Linked DNA regions of Homo sapiens: regions 1, 2 and 4 are each linked to region 3. Evidence: fine-mapped expression QTL. A gene starts in region 3. Each other region holds a variant in brackets. All regions are shown on one strand. Distances are from middle to middle. Region 1 overlaps NIPA1 (NIPA magnesium transporter 1). Region 2 overlaps NIPA1 (NIPA magnesium transporter 1). Region 3 holds the start of NIPA1 (NIPA magnesium transporter 1). Region 4 overlaps NIPA1 (NIPA magnesium transporter 1).

Region 1 (2,500 bases), 35 kb after region 3:
GAAGGAAAAGCTCAACATCTTGGGCAAGTTGGGGTGCCTGCTAAGCTGTGCAGGCTCCGTCGTGCTGATTATCCACTCCCCAAAGTCTGAGAGTGTGACAACTCAGGCTGAGCTGGAGGAAAAGCTGACCAATCCAGGTAATTCCTTTCTAGCAGCACTGCCAAGAAAGTTTGCAGTAGGAGTGCCAACTTTTTTAACCACGTCTTCAAATTGGATGCTTCCTGGCAGGGCAGAGGAACCGTGTGTCCACCCTGATCTGTTACTGTAGATCTGTGTTCTCTGGGAACGTGCATCAGTGGGCTGTGCTCGCAGGCTAGCCCTCTGCCCTCACCCTCCCGCCTGATCCTCAGGCCCTGCGGGGAGCCTCCGTGGCCTGGTATTCCTTCGGGTTCTCTTCTGGGGCCTTGTGCATGGGCGCCTTCCCTTCCCACAGTGGCTCCCCTTGGGCCACCCTCCCAAGTCTGACTGCCACCCGCCCCTCCCCACATACCTTTCCTGGTGTACCCTGCCCACTCTATCTCCACCTCAGCACTTCACTCCCTCCAGCGTGAAGCTCTGTGAGAACAAAGACCTGGCATCTCTTAAGTTTAGATTCCTCATATAGCCCTGTTTATATATCTTTTGACATAATTTCTTTTCTTTTCTTTTTTTTTTTTTTGGAGACGGAGTCTCGCTCTGTCACCCAGGCTGGAGTGCAGTGGCGCGATCTCAGCTCACTGCGAGCTCCGCCATTCTTCTGCCTCAGCCTCCTGAGTAGCCGGGGACTACAGGCGCCTGCCACCATGCCCGGCTAATTTTTTTTGTATTTTTAGTAGAGATGGGATTTCATCATGTTAGCCAGGATGGTCTTGATCTCCTGACCTCGTGATCCGCCCACCTCGCCCTTCCAAAGTGCTGGGATTACAGGCGTGAGCCACCATGCCCGTCCTTTTTTTATTTTGATAAATACACTAAAAACTACTATCTAC[G/A]TGATTACAACAGACTTAAAGTATAGATTTCACTTTAAGTAGACCACCCTGTGTTGCTTACCAACAAGTTTAGGCAGGTTCCAGCACAAAACTGCCTCCACATCAGTTTGCTGGTTTACATGTCCACACTCGCTGGTTTGCATGTCCATACTCGCTGGTTTGCATGTCCACACTCCCTGGTTTTCATATCCACACTCGCTGGTTTTCTCGTCCACACTCACTGGTTTTGTCCACACTCGGTGGTCTGCATGTCCACACTCGCTGGTTTTCTTGTCCACACTCACTGGTTTTCTTGTCCACACTGGCTGGTTTGCATGTCCACACCCTGGTTTGCATGTCCACACCCTGGTTTGCAAGTCCACACTCGCTGGTTTGCATGTTAACACCTAGTTTGCATGTCCACACTCACTGGTTTTCTTGTCCACACTCGCTGGTTTTCTTGTCCACACTCTCTGGTTTGCATGTCCACACTTGCTGGTTTGCATAGCCAGCAGTTCCCAGCCCTCTCAGGTCCATTTGTGATGTTGGAATGGATTTCATGGAAAACACAACCTCCTTATACACACAAGTTCAAACCATCAATTTAATGCCCTAACTGTAATATAAAGGAGAAATACCAGGACAATACTTTAAAACAAAACATCCCTTTCAATATGTAAATGCTCAGGTCCCACTATAAGAGAAGACCTATTGAAGCTGGCCGACCCCACACCTTGTGAGGAGTGGTTGAGAATCTGGTAGCTGCAGATATAGACTGACGTGGGGGTGTAATGTTATTGACTGGGACACTTGAGGTCTTGCTATCAACAAAATGATCCTCAGATGGAGCATAACTCTTAATGAAGTTTTGATCAAAGAACAATCCTCCCTCAATTTACATGGAAGTGACATGTCTGAAGAATTCAGCATATATTAAATCCATGCAAAAATTACTTTGTTTCATACATAAAATAGTTTCTAGGCTCTGATTATTATAGGCATATTTTTCAGTTACAAGTCCGAGGAGACATTCAGCAGTTGTGACGAGAATGGGATGATTTTTGATGGGGGTGGGGGTTGCTGTCTGCACATGCCTCTGCCCACTGGATGCAGCCCCCAATCATTGCAAAACCCACAAACACCCCCACAGCTTAAAGTCCTCCCTCCTGTCCCCTGCCTTACCCCTGCCCCCTGGATTCCCAGGTGCTTTTTTGAAACCTCGGAGCATCTCCATTCACTTGTATTGTTAAGAGAATGTTTCTAGGCCGGGCACAGTGGCTCACGCCTGTAATCCCAACACTTTGGGAGGCCGAGGACGGCGGATCACCTAAGGTCAGGAGTTCGAGACCAGCCTGGCCAACATGGCGAAACCCCGTCTCTGCTAAAAATATAATAGCCAGGCGTGGTGGCGGGTGCTTATGTATTCCCAGCTACTCAGGAGGCTGAAGCAGGAGAATCGCTTGAACCTGGGAGGTGGAGGTTGCAGTGAGCAGAGATCGTGCTATTGCAATCCAGCCTGGGCAACAAAGAGCAAAACTCCATCTCAAAAAAAC
Region 2 (2,500 bases), 26 kb after region 3:
ACAATCGCAAGTAAGTAGCCTGTGTGGCGAAGTCTGGTCTTTTCCTTTCTTAGAATCCATCACTGGTCTGGGCAGGGCTGGAGTGGCTGGGCTAGGGTGGCTCTGTTCTTTGGAAGAGGGTGTCGCGTGGCCTCTCCCCAGGCCCTAAGCGTGCCTTTCAGTTCGGATGTCCCTGCCTCCCCAGGGCACTCTCCCTGCTCCCCTTCCTCCCAGGATGAGAGTGCAGAAGGACAAGTTAGGAGCTGGTGGAGGCCCCTGCTGCCCACGATTAGCCGTGAATTCAGTCCAGGCTGATCTGTCCTGGGCCCGAAGAAATTAAAACAGCTCCTGCTTACTCATGTAGTCGGGCTGTTGGCATTTGGTGAAATTCCATGTTAGGCTGCCTTGTTTTTCTCAGCACAGTTGGTTTAACAGAGAATTTCATGAGTCAAAGATCAGGTCATGTGCTATAATGTAAAGATAAATAATAATATTAGAGTTCAGAACTCTAAATGTATTATAAAGGACAATTGTCTTTGAAATTCAGAAATATTATGTTTGGCCAGGCATGGTGGCTCACGCCTGTAATCCCAGCACTTTGGGAGGCTGAGACAGGTGGATTGTTTGAGCCCAGGAGTTCAAGACCAGCCTGGGAAACATGGCAAAACCCTGTCTGTACAAAAACAAAAATTACCTGGGCATGGTGGGATGCACCTGTTTTCAAAGCTATTTGGAGGCTGAGGTGGGAGGATTGCTTGAGCCTGGGAGGTGGAGGCTGCAGTGAGCCAAGATCACGCCAGTGCACTCCAGCCTGGCTGACAGAGTGAGACTCTGTCTCAAAAGAAAAAAAAGAAACATCATGTACTTTGTTTGTCACATTTGTCTTTTAATACGACATTACGTGGCAATACCAATTCTGTTCCTTGAAGAGCTCCTCTTTAAGCTCCATCTGGGTGATGTCCCTGCTGCAGTCTTGTGCGGCAGTACTGTATCCTCTTGCTATGCCAGTGGCCTGTCACCGTGGCCAGCTGCCTATGCCAGAGTAGGTCCCAGGCCAC[T/C]AGAGGGTGCACAGGAAGTTCTGCCTGATTTGTGTGAAAACAAGGATGTGTTAAGAGAGCGGAGATATGCCCAGTGCTGCGCCCATTTCAGTCACTGCTGGTTAGGTTCGGCATTTCCATGGAGGGCTGAACCTACTCACCCGACTGATGGGACCAGTGAAGGTGTGGTTCCTGACCCCTGACCCCTTAAATGTGCAGATGACACCCCAGATGTGATTCTTCACAAGTAATGTGAATGAAGTAGCCCTTTCAGGGCAGAGCCTAGCGTAATTCAACTGTGATCAGTGCTGGAAGAGAGCTCTGTAATTGCAAGTAGTATCCTTGTGATTTTCTTGACAGTGGCTGTTGGCCAGATTGGAAACTTCCTGGCTTACACGGCGGTCCCCACGGTCCTGGTAACCCCCCTGGGCGCCCTTGGAGTACCGTTCGGGTGAGAGCCAAGATTGTGTTTGGTATTTAATGTGTAGTGTAGATATAACAACTTTTCATTTTAAATGTTTCTGTTAAAGTAATAAGAGCAAAATTGTAATAGAAGATAGATCTTCAGGCCGGGCATGGTGGCTTACGCCTGTAATCCCAGCACTTTGGGAGGCCAAGGAGGGTGAATTATTTGAGGTCACGAGTTCAAGACCAGCCTGGCCAACATGGTGAAACCCTGTCTCTACTAACAATATGAAAAATTAGCTGGACATGGTGGCGACCACCTGTAGTCCTAGCTACTCGGGAGGGTGAGACACAAGAATTGCTTGAACCTGGGGGGCAGAGGTTGCAGTGAGTTGAGATGGCACCACAGCACTCCAGCCTGGGAGACAGAGCGAGACTCTGCCTTAAAAAAAAAAAAGAAGATAGATCTTCAGTATTCTACTCTATATCGTTTAATTTTATCCCTTCAAATGTAGTTCTGGGTAGTATTAACCCTTTTCTTAGATATTTAGTATATTTGAAACTGTCACTCATTTTTCCTGCTTATCAGTGAATCTGATGCTCTCATTCTCCTGGTCGTTGTCCTGGAGTACATCTTAGAGACTAGAGAGTCTTCTGACACCTTGGCAAGTTATTCTGAGAACTCATTAAGCAAAATGACTGAGTTGGTGTTTTATTGGGGTGCTTAGCATTCCTTGCTGGATGCCGGACAGTCCCCACCTCAGCCCAGGAAATTACAGAGGTTGGGATGAATAATACACGGCATCAATGGATGTGAAATAGGATTTATGACTGACGCAGTCAATAGCACATGGATTTTCTTAGGAGAAGGTCCCGGGTTTGGTTCTGAGTGAGACGAGTGAGGGGGACCTTTGGATTTTTATTGTAGTTAGGTGGTGGGGTGGGCTGGGGGGCGGTTTGCATGCTTAGGCCGGGCTGGCATGGAGTGAAGTTTTTGCCCATGCCAAGGGACTGAGGACTCTGGGAACTGAGGACTCCAGGGACCCAGTGTGTGCGCAGGCTTCTTTTTAAATTTTAAT
Region 3 (2,752 bases):
GCTAATTAATTTTTTTCTTTTTTTGGTAGAGACGGGTCTCGCTACGTTGCCCAGGCTGGTCTTGAACGTCTGAGCTCAAGCGAGCCTCCCACCTCGGTCCCCAAAGTGCTGGGATTATAGGTGTGAGCCACTGTGCCCAGCTTGTAGCATCGTTTATAGACAACAAAACCTGGCAGCAACCGGCCAGGCGCGGTGGTTCACGCCTGTAATCCCAGCACTTTGGGAGGTAGAGCGGACGGATCACCTGAGGTCAGGAGTTCAAGACCAGCCTTGCCAAGATGGTGAAACCGCGTCTCTACTCAAAATACAAAAATTAACCCGGGCGTGGTGGCGGACGCCTGTAATTCTAGATACTCGGAGGCTGAGGCCGAGAATCGCTTGAATCCGGGAGGCGGAAGGTTGCAGTGAGCCGAGATCGCGCCATTGCACTCCAGCCTGGGCGACAGAGCGAGACTCTGTCTCAAAAAAACAAACCAACCTGGTAGCTACCTAACACCCAACAATGGCTGAATGGTTAGACAAATTATTATACTGTCATTAGAATAATCATATTTATGTACCGATACAGAAACTGATATATATTAAATAAAAAGGAAATTTCGTATATTGTAATTGGAAACATGTAAAAGTATGTATACATTATGGGAAAACACCTAAAATACTAATAATTAGGTGAGGGTTGTGGAATTGAGTCACTTTAAAAAATATTTTTTTCCAAAAAAAATAAAATAACTTTTTCCTATTTTTCAAGCTTGTAATTTTGTTGTTGTTTCTTTTTTTTTTTTTTTTTGAGACGGAGTCTCGCTCTGTCGCCCAGGCTCGAGTGCAGTTGTGTGATCTCCGCTCACTGCAAGCTCTGCCTCCCGGGTTCACACCCTTCTCCTGGCTCAGCCTCCCGAGTAGCTGGGACTACAGGCCTCCGCCACGACGCCCAGCTAATTTTTTGTATTTTTAGTAGAGACGGGGTTTCACTGTGTTAGCCAGGATGGTCTCGATCTCCTGACCTTGTGATCCACCCGCCTCGGCCTCCCGAAGTGCTGGGATTACAGGCGTGAGCCACCGCGCCCGGCTTGTTGTAGTTTATTAAAACGAGGAAACTAGACTATGGGATCACAAGCCCAGAGCCCCATGTAGCTGACTCTAGCGCCAAGGGCGGAAGAGAAACGCCCAGCGCCAGGGCTCTCCTTCGATCTCTGCAGCGGCGCGCCGGGCTTCGCGCTCCGGTGAGTTGGGCCGGCCTCCGCTGGAGGCTCTTCGGGGACCGCTGCCCGCCGGTGCGTCCTGCCGCGCTCCGCTGCCCGGATATTGCAGAGGACACCACTCAGAAAGTATGCGTGTTTCTCCGCGCTGGAAACTTAACCAGGAGTCCTGCATTTCCATTTGCGAAATCCGGGAACCCCCGCCCCACCCAGCGCCTCACCGGCCCCTCACTGCCGCCGCGTCCGGCGCCACTGCTGTCCCCGCAGCCTAAGGCGCCGGTCCCTGGCACCCCCGTCCCGCCCCCGCCCCTCTTCCTGCTCCTCCCCCACCCGTCCCCCTCCCCTCCCCCGCCCGCGCCTCCCGGTCACCCCCCATCCCGCCCCGCGGGGCGCGGCGCGCAGGCGCAGGCTCGGAGGGCGGGCGCGGGCGGAATGGGGACTGCAGCTGCGGCAGCGGCGGCGGCGGCGGCGGCGGCGGCCGGGGAGGGGGCGCGTAGCCCGAGCCCCGCCGCCGTGTCGCTCGGCCTGGGCGTGGCCGTCGTGTCGAGCCTGGTGAACGGGTCCACGTTCGTGCTACAGAAGAAGGGCATCGTGCGTGCCAAGCGGCGAGGTAGGGCGGGCGGCAGGCGGCAGGCGGCGGGCGGGTGGGGGAGGCGGGCGGCGGAGAAGGCGGTCGCAGGTGGGGGCGCCCGGGTCGGGGCAGGGGACGGGGTCGGGGCCCGGGCCCAGGTTGGGGGAAGGCTGCGCGGGCGGGTGCTCCCCGCGGCGTGCCCAGGCTGCCGCCGCGTCCTGGCGCTCGGGCCCGGGAGCGGCCCAGGAATCACAGGTGCGTCCTGAGCGTCCGGCGCTTCGCCGACGCCACGGCTTTTCTCCGTTCTCAGCGGCTGGAGCGGCTTGCTTTGGTGTGCGGGCTTCCCCGGCTGACTTTTTCCCTCGGTCCAAGACCTGCCCCGCGCCGCCCGGCAGCCCTCGCCGTGGCCCGCAACCCGCGGCCGGGAGCCTCCTGCGGACGCGGTGCTGGGGTGCTCGAGCCCAGCGCCCGCCTGGAAGCGCCGCTTCAGCCGATGCGCGGCCCGCTCCTAGGGTACGCTCGGTAGAGCAAGACCTGGGATTTCCAGTCCCCCGCAGGGGCCTCGCTGGTGCAAAAGGAAGACCCGGGCGGGCTCTCAGGGCTGTGCGTTCCTGGGGTGCTCTTACGGAGCCCGCTGCGCCTTAGACCTGCACCAAATGAATACAAGTGATCTTCAGTTTGGAGAACACGCGCGGCAGATCCAAAACCAAGCCCTGGACGGGCCAAGGCCACTTCCCAGGTGGATGTGCCGCAGCACCGCACTCCGTAGTGCTCTGCGGGGTAGAGCTCTCTGTCAGTGTCGTTTGTGCTGGGAGGCCCCGGACGGGACCGGTTTGCCAATGCAGGATATGGCAGGCTGTGAAACAGTCCGTTTCCATTGCTTCCAGAGGGACTGAGAAAGTCTTGTGGTTCTTGGCCATACTCTTAGAAGAAGAATATTAAGAGCTCTCTGGGAAGGATGTGGCCCCCGACTCTTGGGTTG
Region 4 (2,500 bases), 21 kb after region 3:
TGTCGCCCAGGCTGGAGTGCAGTGGCGCGATCTCGGCTCACTGCAAGCTCCGCCTTCTGGGTTCACACCATTCTCCTGCCTCAGCCTCCCGAATAGCTGGGACTACAGGCGCCCGCCACCACGCCCAGCTAATTTTTTGTATTTTTAGCAGAGACGGGGTTTCACCGTGTTAGCCAGGATGGTCTTGATCTCCTGACCTTGTGATCCGCCCGCCTCGGCCTCCCAAAGTGCCGGGATTACAGGCGTGAGCCACCGCGCCCGGCCTAAAGCTGTATTTTAAGGACATTTCCGACACATTTATAACTAAATGGAAGGTCTAAAGCCACATGCCCCTGGTTGGACAGCATCACTGTCAGTTGATACTGTCATCCTGGCAAGGCTCTTTTGTGTTTGCACAAACACTTCTTTGTTTTATAGTTTAGCTGTTATAAACAGCTATGCAACTCTCAGCACCCAGGGTTTCCAATGAGAGGAAAACCAATGGAACTTAGCGATCATATCCTCTGCAGCCCACACCTAGGAGTGGGGGAGGAGACGTGAGTGTGGCAAGACAAACAGCATCCTCTGCATCCTTCAGTGCTGCAGCTCCCTGTTGTTGCTGAGGCCGGAGGACCTGCAGATTAATAGAGGACCGTCATCAACTGGGAAGAGGAGAAGCTTGGGCATAGATACCTACTGAGAGTGCTGGCTAATGAGCTTTCGGAACAACAGTGCTTAGGGGCAGCAATGCTTAGGGTGAAACTGTGAAGAAACCCAGTTGTTTTAGATATCCTCACAGATATCTGTATGACGGGCCAAGGGCTAATATGGAATGCAGACTCCTAGGAGCTCCTGGCAAAAGAAGGAGGAGGGAAAATGGAGCAGCCAACTCAGTGAGGAAGCTGGGCACACAGCCATGCACTTCCTGCAGGGCAGAACAGGGGACACCCCTGGACCGAGGCTCTCAGGGACCATGTGCAGGAGCTTCACTTTTGTTTATGGGTAGGGGTATGGGACAGGTACCTGGATGGAGAAAAACCTGACTTGCTTAATGTCTGTGGATGCAGAAAAATTTTGCCTAATACTGGTTTAAAAGGTGAGGGTGACCTATACACCTTTTGATTTGTGCAAATCCAGGCTCTTGATGGAGAGTACAAGTTGCAGGGCCTGAAATGCTTGGAACTGAACTGGACCCTTTGGGAAAAGAACAAAAACCATTTTGTTCACTTTGCCATTCCTGTGTACCTGGTATTCCAGGTTCCTCCTCATTTTGTGACTTTTGACATTTTATAAACTGCCAAAAACATATACTATGTGATGATCAATGTTGGGATAACCATAGCAGTGAAAGGGGGGTGCCTATGGGCCTCATTGCACTGGTCACTGTCATCCTTGACCAGCTTTCACTGTAGGAGGGTCACACAGTCCAGCTGCTGTAGCAGGAATCCCATGACTTCAC[A/G]AAACGTCCTGACCAAACCATGTTCATTACAATAAAAGGACAGCTGGATGTGGTGGCCCACGCCTGTAATCCCAGCTACTTGGGAGGCTGAGGCAGGAGAATCACTTGAACCTGGGAGATGGAGGTTGCAGTGAACTGAGAGACCATGCCACTACACCCCAGCCTGGGCAACAGAGTGAGACCCTGTCTCAAAAAGAAAAAAAAAATCTAAAAACCCAATAAAAACAAAATCAAAAGTTGGTTCTTTGAAAAGAACAATGAAATTGACAAACCTTTAGCTAGACTGACCAAGCAAAAAAGAAGAATCAAATTACTAAAATCAGGAATGAAAAAGGAGATATTTTCTGTATGCCCTTAGGATAATTTCCACAGAGTTTAAATTCACTTGTGTGTGTGTGTGTGTGTGTGATGGAGTCTCTCTCTGTTGCCCAGGCTGGAGTGCAGTGGCACAATCTCGGCTTACTGCAAGCTCTGCCTCCCAGGTTCATGCCATTTTCCTGCCTCAGCCTCCCAAATAGCTGGGACTACAGGCGCCCACCACCATGCCCAGCTAATTTTTTTTTGTATTTTTTTTAGTAGAGACGGGGTTTCACTGTGTTAGCCGGGATGGTCTCGGTCTCCTGACCTTGTGATCCACCAACTTCGGCCTCGCAAAGTGCTGGGATTACAGGCATGAGCCACTGCACCCGGCCCACTTTGTTAAGTACTTTATTTATTAGTTATGGTGGTTTTGTTGGGAAACTGGTCCACAGACTTTTCACACTAGTATTCTGGACCTGATGACCTTTCACTCAAGTATTCGGCATGCATTTTGGGATAGCCACTTTGATTAGCACATTTAGAAATCTAACATTGATTCTGTATTAATAGCTGACTCTCCTACAGTGCCCACCATGGGACATTCTTAAGCTTCGCTAAACTTTCTGCTTCATAGGACACCCTGGGTCCTGTTTGTATTAGATACACTGAGAGGGACACCAGACAGGAGCCCCAGTGGTGCCAGGCTGTCTTCTCCAGTGGAGCCTGGCAGCAGAGGTAGGGCGTGGCTCAGGGCTGGGAGAC

What was found. PIP is the estimated chance that this variant, and not a neighbour inherited with it, causes the effect. A credible set is the group of variants that fine-mapping cannot tell apart.
Region 1: its variant is the best candidate, but not a certain one, in a credible set for the expression of NIPA1 in blood mononuclear cells (TOPMed, PIP 0.77).
Region 2: its variant is the best candidate, but not a certain one, in a credible set for the expression of NIPA1 in hippocampus (GTEx, PIP 0.62).
Region 4: its variant is the best candidate, but not a certain one, in a credible set for the expression of NIPA1 in blood mononuclear cells (TOPMed, PIP 0.50).

Annotation. Positions count from the first base shown.
Region 1 is chr15:22,820,337-22,822,836 of GRCh38, forward strand. NIPA1 (NIPA magnesium transporter 1) reads left to right here. Exons shown (of 5, transcript NM_144599.5): 4 at 1-137. Among named protein-coding and RNA genes, the nearest start is that of NIPA2, 17 kb to the right of the region's middle. The variant G/A (reference allele first, on the strand shown) is at 969.
Region 2 is chr15:22,810,787-22,813,286 of GRCh38, forward strand. NIPA1 (NIPA magnesium transporter 1) reads left to right here. Exons shown (of 5, transcript NM_144599.5): 2 at 1-10; 3 at 1,377-1,467. Among named protein-coding and RNA genes, the nearest start is that of NIPA1, 25 kb to the left of the region's middle. The variant T/C (reference allele first, on the strand shown) is at 1,038.
Region 3 is chr15:22,785,026-22,787,777 of GRCh38, forward strand. NIPA1 (NIPA magnesium transporter 1) reads left to right here and starts at 1,619. Exons shown (of 5, transcript NM_144599.5): 1 at 1,619-1,809. The coding sequence starts at 1,632. RefSeq lists silencers at 1,291-1,524, 1,487-1,846, 1,917-2,066, 2,077-2,206 and an enhancer at 2,557-2,666.
Region 4 is chr15:22,805,959-22,808,458 of GRCh38, forward strand. All of the region lies in intron 1 of NIPA1 (NIPA magnesium transporter 1), which reads left to right. Among named protein-coding and RNA genes, the nearest start is that of NIPA1, 21 kb to the left of the region's middle. The variant A/G (reference allele first, on the strand shown) is at 1,439.